Linked DNA regions of Homo sapiens. The protein of the gene in region 1 interacts with the protein of each later gene in a biochemical or structural test. Each region holds a gene or a part of one and is shown on either strand. Other genes may lie near its edges.

Region 1 (7,304 bases):
GCCACCAGTGAGCATGTGGTAAAGGCTTTATTCTTTGATATGATAACTTTATTAGCTGGTGTTCTTGTTCACTGCTACTGTAGCTCCAGATTTCCACCATTTCCCATCAGCACTCTCAGGCGTTAGCCTCCACTGAACATCCACTTAGAAATTAAACAATGGGAAAATGAGAGATATGCAAGATTGTCAAAAACAATGGAATTCCTTCCACTTTACTGCCTATGCTCTCAAAACTGTCTTCTTGCAAAGTATATATATTTCATTGGTGTTTACAACTAACCTTCTTACTATATGAATTTTAAAGAGTAGAAAAAGACAACTGTAAGATACATTAATCTGTGACCTGACTTAACCCCATATAAAAATGTCACAAATTCTAATGCAAAAAAGGTTTCGTTTAAAAAGTCATACCTTTTAATAAATAAATGTCTAAGCTAAGATAGTCATATCACGTTTAAAACTAGTGATTAGTAAAATAAATTTTAACAAAATCACAGTTTTGAAAAAATAATTTAATTACAAGTAGTTGTTTTTGAAATAATTTTTTAAAATTACAAACAAAAAAATCAACCCATTCCTAAAATCGATTAACCCACAAACATAATAGAAAGCACTTTGAAAGATATACCTCTAAACACTCTAAAATGTGTGCATTCTCACATGAATGAAATATTTTAACTGAACTGGACAGGTTATTTCTGGGAATCTTTCTTCCTCAAAATTAGAACAGAAAAACAGTAAAGCGAAGACACACACGTGCGTGCGCGTGCACGCAACCCAAAGCAAAACCCATTCCACCACTGGAAATATTCCAGACGGGATTGCCTGAGCCATTATTTGTTTCAAATTAGTGATGTATTTATAGTACCTGATATACTCTGGCTTACAGCCAATTTTATAGAAAAAAATCCATTTATAAGTGATTCAAATAAATTATGATTCCTTAATATAACGGAAATATACTATGTAAGCATTAAAAATGTAGTTGTCTAGATACATTAAAAAATGGAAAAATGCCAAAGAGACCAAGTAAAAAAAAACAAGGTGCAACTCATCTGTGTTTATGGTATGATCACATTTGTTTAAAACAATATACATAAAATAACTGTATATGCATAGAAATTATCTTGATGATACCCAAGAAAAAGTAATAGCAGTTACTGCTCTTGGAGAAGAGAATGAGGATGTCAAGGTCACATCCGGGAGTGACACTCACTTTTCATCTCCCCCTTTCTCTACAGTATTTCAATTTTATACATAAGCATGTATTATCTTATTAAAAGAGAAAATTTTAACAATGACAAGAAAAAAACCATAGAACTCATGACTGTTATCTAAGTGTCAAAGAAAGATGCCTGCTCAATTTGAGTACATGTTAATAATACATTTTATGGATTACTCTTCTACTAAAATCTACTAAAAAGATACTTAGGCCATTTCTACTGTGAACTTAAATGGCATAAAATATTTACAAAAGCCTTAATGCAAGCACATAAGCTAATTTCAAACAGATCTGGTTACTTACCCTCCAACCCTCACAAATAGTGAGAATTTTAGAAGCAGATTTCTTGCTGAAAAGTCACACAAACCACTTCTTCAACCCACCCTCTGCCCCACAATCAGTTCCCTAAAGCACAAACATATGATACTTACAATTGATTTGAATGATTAAGAGAGAACTTAAGTCACCCTTGTTAAAACTGCACTTAAACGTTGGGACAAGCTGGAACATTTATCTTCCACTCATCTTAGACTCCATTATCACCAAGCGAAAATTTGAATTGGTGACTTATAGAATGATCTGACGGAAAAAATTCACCTCCAGGATTGGATGGAAGCATGAAGAAAATAATGCCTCATTTATCTAAATGATTAAATGAATTTGCTAGAAATGATCACTATACCTTTTTTCAATTCACAAAATGTCTTACTTAGGCCAGCCCACAGTTCCAACACATTATCTTCTGGCAGACACCCTGTGAAGCTGTCCCACATTACTTTCTACTGCAATACCCTGGGACAAAGTGTCATAAAAGTAACAAGTGTCAAGTCTCCTTGTCTTTTATGTAGGTCTTTTAAAAATGAGGCACAGCGCCTTTTCCTTCACTTTGAAGAGCACAGCAACAGTATTTCCAAAATGAATCTGCTCTCAACAGGCCCTCCCCGCCCCAAATTAAAATGTTAAAGAGTACAACAAAATCATCATAATATTCTTTGAACTTAAAAAAAAAAAAAAACCAACTATTTCAAGGCACATTTAATTTAATATCAAGAGTGCAATACAAAAGGCCCAAATACAATGAAGGAACACATTCCCCCATTAACACCAACGACAAAGCTCTTTTAAACATGTGCCTGTTGAATGGAACGGGGATTTCATAAAATTCACTAAAAAAAATAATGCAGTGAGTCTCATCACAGCTAATATCCTTATACAATCTAGTTGTGAAATGAATGTTTATAATGCTTCAAACAGTTTCAACCTGAAGTTTGATACCACACCTTCATGTTTGTACAGTCCTCAGTAAGATTATCTACAGTTTTTGCAACCATTCAAAGAACAAACCATTGAATAAAACCACATTGATTAAGGCTCAAGCAAGTAATATAGAGCCCCAAACTAAATGGTTAAATATATGCGCTACTTGTACGGACATCTATTATTTGATTCTCTCATGACTATTGAAAGTTGGTTCTCAGCAAATAAACCCTTTAAAGGCAAAATTCACCTCATTTGAGTTTTGACCCAGAAGTTCAACAACAATCATGAAGTCCACAGTCTTATTGGCAAAACTGATACACAGTGTCTCTAAGTCACTATGCTCAAGGTTAAGAGCGATGCATATTCCGTTTTTACATTTTACTGGAATTTTACATGTTCAATTCATGATTTAAAATCTCTAGGTTTTCATTCCTTCAAACTGTCTGAAGACACAGTGTGCCACAGACTTAAGACTTCTGTTTCTCCCTCTATTTTCTTCAAACAGAAACATTTCTCAAGTGTCTACATGTTCTAGAAGGGGAATTTTTCGGAGGTGGCCACTTCTTCGGAATAGTCCGACGCCATCAGGCCTCTGAAGCAAGGGGAAGGGGAAAAGAAAAAAGCTGAAACACAAGGTTCATCTGGTAAGTTTTACATTAACCATTACAAGCTGGACAGTGTAAGAATGTGGCTTTTTTTTGGCTCAAAAAGTCTGAGTCTTGGTGTGGAAACGAGTACTTGGCTGTCCCACCACAGCTTTCTCGTAGTGGGACTGTCAGGGAAGTCTTGACTGGGGAGTATGATTTGTTTACCTATCAGGCGTAAACTTCCAGGCACTCAGTTCATTTTGGGCTTGTTCCAGTTTGTCTTTAGTCTGTTCCAGTTCACCTTTCATTTTTAGGAAAAACAAGTTGATCGCTGGGTCTACCATTGTTGATCTCAGTTGGGCAACGCTCGGCTGCTGGACTTGCTTGAGGTACTGGATTTGAGTCTGTGCAAAGCAAAAGAAACAATTACGACCAAATCAAAGGAAACATACATAAGAAGGTGGGGAAAACTCCCTCCATTCACTTGATTTACCAACTCTTTCATTAAGCTCCTCCCCTCTTTGATCCTGAAATTCTCTAGAAAAATCTTAAAACTTTCTAGAAAAAGTACAGACTAAAAACTATTTGATGAATATGCTAATTACCCCGATCTGATCACTATACATTATATGTATTGAAACATCACTATGTAGTAGTCCTTGAATATGTAAAAAACTTATTTGTCAATTAAAAAAATAACTATTTAAGGTTACTCACTTAGGAATTGAGGCCATTTGATTACATCTCCAAATCTGGGACTTAAAGTGGCTACATACATTTTACTTTACAATCCAAACATTACCAAAAAACAAACGAAAATCAACATTATATTTACTAAAAATGCTGACAACCCAGTGGAAAAAAGCAAAGTTTAAAATATTAATTACCTAAGAGTTAATGAAGTCTTTGGTTTGCTTAATTTTTTACCTGTGGAAATTATTCTATGTAAAGTCCCCTAAAAATACATCAGGTGCAAGATTATAACTTAAAATACACATTTGAATTTCTAAAGGAAAAAATATACAGTACTTATAGCTACAAGAGTTGCTGTTACAGCTTTATAAAAGCAAAACTCTATAGGACCTTAAGCCAAAATAAAGTATAATTCATATTTTTCCCCTTCTGAATAGATCCGAATCATAGAATTGTAAAGCTGGAAAGTAACTCACCTAATCCAAACTGCTTATTTTGAGATTAAATAACCCAACTGTTTAGTTCAGTGCCATAGCGGGACTACAATTCTAGTTCTCCGGCCTTCTGATTCCCAGTCTAGAGCTTTTTCCACCATACCAGAACCCTTCTACTTACATATGAAACCTTCAATTTCGACTTCAGTTGTGCTATTTACTAGCACACTAAAAATACATTTCTAAAATATGAAATATAGTTATTAGCATTAAATTCATCATTTTCTTCATACTCAAAGTAGATCTGGCCCAAGATCTAACTCCATACTAAGGCTTAAATAGGATTACAGTTAAAATTTTCTAATATAAATTTAGTAAAAGGAACAAATATACTAAGTGGTTTGGGAATATATTTGTTTCACTGAGCAAAAATCTAGTACAACTGCATAGTCAATGTGAAGCCAGCTGCTAAGATAACAGAGCGAGAATAAACCATGACTTACAGTGCACTCCATGTACTGACAGGACTGATTAAAACAGTCTACAGCACTGACTGAGACTCAGTTACTATTTAGCTTTACAAAGACCCAATAGTCAACACTTTCATTCATGAAAAGAGAGGTGAATCAGACTAGAATAAATTCCATGTTCTAGGGAAGAGAACACTGAGTAAAGTGTTTTCAAAGTTAGTTTTATTCCTAAATCTATTTTGAGTTGATTGGCAAAAGACTAAATGAAAAACAGAAATACCACTGAGGTGAACAAAAATGACAGATTTTACTTACCAACAAAATAAAATATAGTTAAGAATACAGTATATAGTTAAGAATATAGTAACTACGTGGCTAATTTATGCCTTACGCTCAAAACTAACTAAATTGACTACTGATGTACTTGGCAAAGACTGCATGTAGACAAAGAAATAAAGCATTATTATTAAAAGATCAAATGGATGAGTTAGTATGCTGGACAAACAAAAGATCTACACAAATAGATTCCTAAGGATGTATATTTTATTTTTTCTAAGCTTAGCTTAATTTGAAACACCAAGGGTAAATGCAGCAGCTCTGTTTTAAAGGACAGGTACCTAATACAAACCTTTCCACTATTTTTCACTCAAGAGGGTAAGAAACCCTCCTTCTCAGGGCCAATCCTTTCAACCATTCGCTTAACCTATTCCCTCCAAACTCCTATAGTACATCACTCCCATTCTTTCTACTCTTTAAATTTAGTTTCTCTCACTTCCCACTTGACAGTTCCTCTAGAGCAGGGGTATCCAATCTTTTGGCTTCCTTGGCCAACAACCTCTTAACTGCCAAATCTAACGAACAATTTTAAATTCGTATTGTACAGAACTTTATGTATGCCTTTGTTTTAATCACTTTGTATTTTGGGGAAGGAGGAGGGAATGCTGGATTTCCTGTTTTCCTAACACCACACTCTACTCTTCTTTTAAAATTTGATCTTTGTAGGATCTATCCTAGTAGCATCGTTACTCAGTCAAACAAGACAAACCTGAAGCTGTGATTCCTCCCTAGATTTTTTTCATTCCTTCCACAACAGCATCCAAACTAAACAAGTCCTATTGATTGTGCCTCCAAAACACCTATTCTGTCCTGTCTGCTACCACCAGTGGCTTCATGTATTTCATCTGAACTATTTTAACAGCCTCACAATTGGTTTTCCTGCTTAAAGTCCTGTTCCTCTCAAATCTATCTTTCATACTCAAGTCAGAGTGATCTACCTAAAATGTAAATCTAAATCTGATCCATCACATACATCTCTTGCTGAAGAATTCTTCAGTAGTCCCCTCTCTTCTAGAATACCCAAGATTCCAGGCTGACCTCATCTTTTTTCACTCTCACCTGAAACTTTATCCTCATCTGCCATATATAATCTTGACCTTTCCTTGTGATTTTGCTCCTGCTGCCCTGCCCTGTCTGCAAAACCTCACTTGTATTATAATTGGAAGAACAGGAAGTTGTTCAGCTGGCGTATGCAGGTGACAGCTGTTTTAAAAAAAAAAAAAAGCTGGAAAAGGTTAGGTTCCATTATAGTTGAAATAACCTTAAAATCCAGGTCGAGGAGACAAGAGTGATGAGGTATCACCGAAGGCCTTGACCAGGCGTAATATGATCAAAACTGCCAGCGCATATAGGACAGATGGAGAATCAGATGTGCATGAATAGCACAAACATTGTGATGTGCACACATCAACTATGATGTCAAGAGTAGGAATCCGGAAGAGAAATGGAATTCAAGACATTCTGATCCTATGAGATATTACCATCAACACCTTCTATTCACACTCTATCTCCCAAGTGCTAGCAGTCTAAAGGTAAGATCCATTTCTCGTGTAAAGGGAAATTTGTTAAAACATTCATTAGTAACTATGGAGAAAGAAGTATCAGTGGTGGTAAGAATTACAACAAAACTGATAGAAACAAAAGGACAAAATGTGTTAAGAAGGTAGAGAAAATGATAATGGGCCAGGTGCGATGGCTCACACCTATAATCCCAACAGTTTTGGGAGGCCAAGGAGTAAGGATTGCCAAAGTACAGCAGTTCAAGACCAGCCTGGGCAACATAGGGAAGACCTCATCTCTACAAAAATTAAGAAATTAGCTGCGCTTGGTGGCGCACACCTGAAATCAGTTACTCGGGAAGCTGAAGTGAGGTGTGATTACACCACTGCACTCCAGCCTGGATGAGAGAGAGGCCCTGTCTCAAGAAAAGGGCGGGGGGGTTAGTGGGAAAAAAAAGTAAAGAAAATGATAAAAGCCAGCCTTTAGCAAAGTAAAATGTGAAGAAGTCATTTAGTAACAAGTGAAAGAAGAGTAAATACGTGCTTTTGTGGAAATTTAAACAATCTCTGTAAGGGAAGTAAAAGGACTGTGACTGAACCTTAAGGAACATTCTATTGGCAAAAGAAACAGAACAGGACTGTGCCCATAGATTTTTGGTGTCTCCAATGACCAGAATACTATCTTAGAAGACTTTAATAACACATAAGAAGACTTCTATATGTACCAAATGAAGGGAGAGTACACAAAGAATTGAAGAAACATTCAGATTTTAAAATCAGAAACAAGGATACAGCTGCCTCTA
Region 2 (3,569 bases), on another chromosome or scaffold:
ATAGTTTATAGATAATATAGATCTTTGCTTTCACACTCAGTTGCCCTGGAAAGGCTGAGCAGTTTTCAATCTGCTGAGCTGATTTATAGCAAGTACAGCTGTAAATTCAATTGTACTAGGTGTTCAGCCTATGCCCTCCCAGTGATGTATCTGAACTTTTCAAAAGGACTAGTTGTCATTAACATCTCTCTATTTTCTTTTGCTGATCTGGGATGATGGGATGCAATGACAATCTGCTTAAAATAAACCTTAAAACCTTAAAACATAATCACCACATCATCCACAAACCCCATTCAACCACAGCATGAGCACAATCACTCTGTAACACAAGGTGAAGATATTCTCTGTTGCTTCTAGGACATATAAGTCCCTCCTGAAGTTTGACAGAGAGAAATAAATTGTGGTCAGGACCTGGATAGGCTCACTAGTAGCCGTCGATGTCGGTGGCGTCTTCTCTTACCTGTTTAAAAGAGGCTCAGTGGCCTTGAGATTTGAACACAATACAGCTGATGGAATCTTGCCACTTTCCTTTTGAATAGACTTTAATTGAGAGCAAAGTGAAAAATGCAGGTTACAATTTTAAGTGTTATCATCAATATCTTGTAAGATCAACACCCAGTGATGCATCTAGTACTTATACAGTCCTAATTTTAGTTGTCAAAGAGCAAATCATTATCAGACATATATTTACACAGTAATTTCAAGCAACGGTAAATAATAAATTCCCTCCCTTAAAAAACAAAACACAACACAACACACACACACACACACACACACACACACACACGACCATCTTTAAACAATGGATTTCCTCACCCAGTAAGTCTCATTTTTTTCACATATACTTGTAGACCCAAAGGTCCTTAAGTTACTTAAAAACAGTCTTATCAGTGGAGATCCTGGACCATCCCCTATTTTCTTTTAAAGTCACTTTCATTTTTACAACTTGAAGCCATATACCAGCATGGTTTTTATACACTAAGGACACTCCCAGTGATGAAAATGAATTCCCCTCCATTTGTGCAAGGAGGTATGTACATCTATAAAGACACATATGATTACCACTCAAAAGAGTCAAAAACATACACAAAAAAATCTCAGATCTTCATAGTTTCTTAAGAGCAGTGTGCCAGTGTTCACATTGAATTAACTGAATGGTAAAATTCTTTTAGATTTCTATACAGAGGTACTGGTTAGTTCTGATTTTTTCTTCAGCTGCTTGAAATGCATGAGCTTTAAAAGTTGCCTGGCAGAACTACATCCTGCTTTCCAGGTTAGCAGCCTGGCTGACCTCGGGAATGTTAGACAAGATTCACCCCCGATGCCTTGCTCTCTGATTTATTTCTTGCTGTTGCTGTTAGTAAATGGAAACCATGACAAAGTTTACATTAGCAGACACATACACATGCCCTGGCCTATAAATATTCCATGATAGAAAATGGTACAATAATTCCATCCCCAGCGAAAACGAGCATAAAAAAAGAAGGGAAGGGTCAGGGGGACATGATCAGCTATGGCTCTTCTTACAGTAGAAAATCCACACCAAATGGCAATGGGCTTTTAACTAACCAGACATTGTTAGCTGCTTCTCCAGGGCCTGTGAGTCAACTAAAAGTAGGCAGGGCAGAGACCAACTCTTCCAGGCACACCTGGTAGTTTCCAGAAGCACCGGTATCTTGTCTTGGAAGTTGGATGAAGAAGATCAACTGAAGTTTCCTTTTTAGTGAGGAGGAGTGGAGAGTCAGACTTGAAAGCAGTTCACACACTGTGCTGCCTGGGACACTGAACGGTCCCCGAGGGAGACCCCTCAAAGCGCCAGCTGGAGTTTGGTCATGTTTCTCTGATGCATGTTGTGATGGCGGACTAATTCATCTGACCGGGCAAACTTTTTCTGACAACTTGGCCACCGACAGCTGAAGGGCTTTTCACCTGTTGACACAATTGCCAGTCAGAGACACTTGCAACAAAGAGACAGGCACAAGTTCAACTATCAAGGCCCGAGTGAAGTCATCACAAGGCACCCACTCTGAATTTCCCATCATTCTGTCCCTGAGCTAACCAACTGAGCTCATTTCCCAGGCAGCCTTGAAACAGCAGCACCTCTTGGGGCTTTAAGGATCGAAATATTGTAAAAAGTTATATTCTTAGGTCAGAAAACTTGGAAAGTGGGAGATAAAGAATGAGTCAAGTTGGGGGAAATGTCTGAGCAATTCATAATTAAGGGGAAAAACGTTTGTTTCAGTCTCTGCTGATAGAATGTTTTGTGAACTGTGTAAATTTCTCCCCCTTGTTGAGTAAGTTGGGAACTGAGATGAACTGGGCTGCAGAAGCCTCTGGGTCATCTACCCTGGGTATTACTGAGTGATCACTGTCCAGGGATCTCAGCTGTGACTGAAGCTTTTAACACTTCTATCTGTGTAGATACCCTGGATGGGCTGGATACTTTAAAATAAATCACTGATACCAGTTTACATGTTATGTGTTGTTTTTTTTTTTCTCTTAAAGTGTTACTGAGAGCATAATCCTGTTATATGGAAGATTCTAGTTGGGGCGTGGTTCTTAGATTTTTAATAAGCTTGCCAAAAGATTGAGGCTTCTCCACCCAAAGAGCCCTCAGACATTCTTTCCAAGCCTCATTCTCATTAGGGAGAATAACTACCATTTATTTGATGCTTAACATATGCCAAGCCTTGTGCTGGGCTTCACACACGCACACACACAACCTCATGTACTCCTTACAACTGCCCGTAGGGGAAGCGTTATTATCCCCACTCTACAGATGAGGTAGGACATCTATTGAGGGCAGATCCAGGCAGAACTCAAATCTCCAGGTCTGTCGAATTCCAGAGCCCGTGCTCTTCCCTGTATCACACCTCCCAGGCCTAGCCATGATGGAAAAGCAGCTGCAGCTCCATCTTAAGGAAGAATGCACAGAAGCTAAACCCTGTGCCACCTGACGGATCTTCTCAGATACTGCTGGTCCCACTTGGCCTTCTCTGAGAACTACTGGTTTGGACAAGCACTGAGAAATGTCCCAGGAGGGCTGGTGTCCCAGGGTCAGACTGGAGGCCAATCAAATGTGGTATTAAACAGTCTGCTGGCAAAACAGGTCATGTCACACTTACTTGGGGAGTGTGACAGCCGTGTCAAAGGGACTATAACACTTTGCCACCGAATTATGAGCTCAGGACTAAGTTAAAGAAGCATCAAAGGCACCTGAGGAAGGGAAGCAAGATCCCATCCTGCCAACCATGGGCCACAGGTGCCTTGGCTCTGTTTTTAAATGCAGCCAATTTGGGCGAAGAATCTGGGGCTGCTCAGGGGTTTGTGATGTCATGTTTTCCTTCACTCGCTGTTCCTCTGCTCTTCCTGGCCTGGCTCTCACTCTCCAACCCCACCTCCAGCAGTGCTGTTAAGGGCTGGCTCCTAATGGACTAATCCCAACCCTGTCTCTTGTCATCTTCATTCCTCTCAGTCTCTCAGTGGTGTTCAGCTTTGCTGACTTTGATTCTCTACTTGACTCTCCATGCTCCCTGGACTGCAGAGTAAATATCTGCCCCTTCTCCAAT

Evidence for each region.
Region 2: the proteins of WTAP (region 1) and WT1 form a complex in vitro, tested with the Homo sapiens proteins (one study listed by BioGRID).

The regions. Positions count from the first base shown.
Region 1 is NC_000006.12:159,744,360-159,751,663, reverse strand, and holds part of WTAP (pre-mRNA-splicing regulator WTAP), read right to left. Parts: intron 3,474-7,304; coding exon 3,295-3,473; coding exon of another isoform or gene 3,291-3,294; exon of another isoform or gene 3,075-3,290; coding exon of another isoform or gene 3,014-3,074; exon of another isoform or gene 2,245-3,013; intron 1-2,244. UniProt on the Homo sapiens protein: Associated component of the WMM complex, a complex that mediates N6-methyladenosine (m6A) methylation of RNAs, a modification that plays a role in the efficiency of mRNA splicing and RNA processing.
Region 2 is NC_000011.10:32,387,251-32,390,819, forward strand, and holds the end of WT1 (Wilms tumor protein), read right to left. Parts: intron 1,930-3,569; coding exon 1,808-1,929; 3' UTR 525-1,807; downstream 1-524. UniProt on the Homo sapiens protein: Transcription factor that plays an important role in cellular development and cell survival. Recognizes and binds to the DNA sequence 5'-GCG(T/G)GGGCG-3'. Regulates the expression of numerous target genes, including EPO.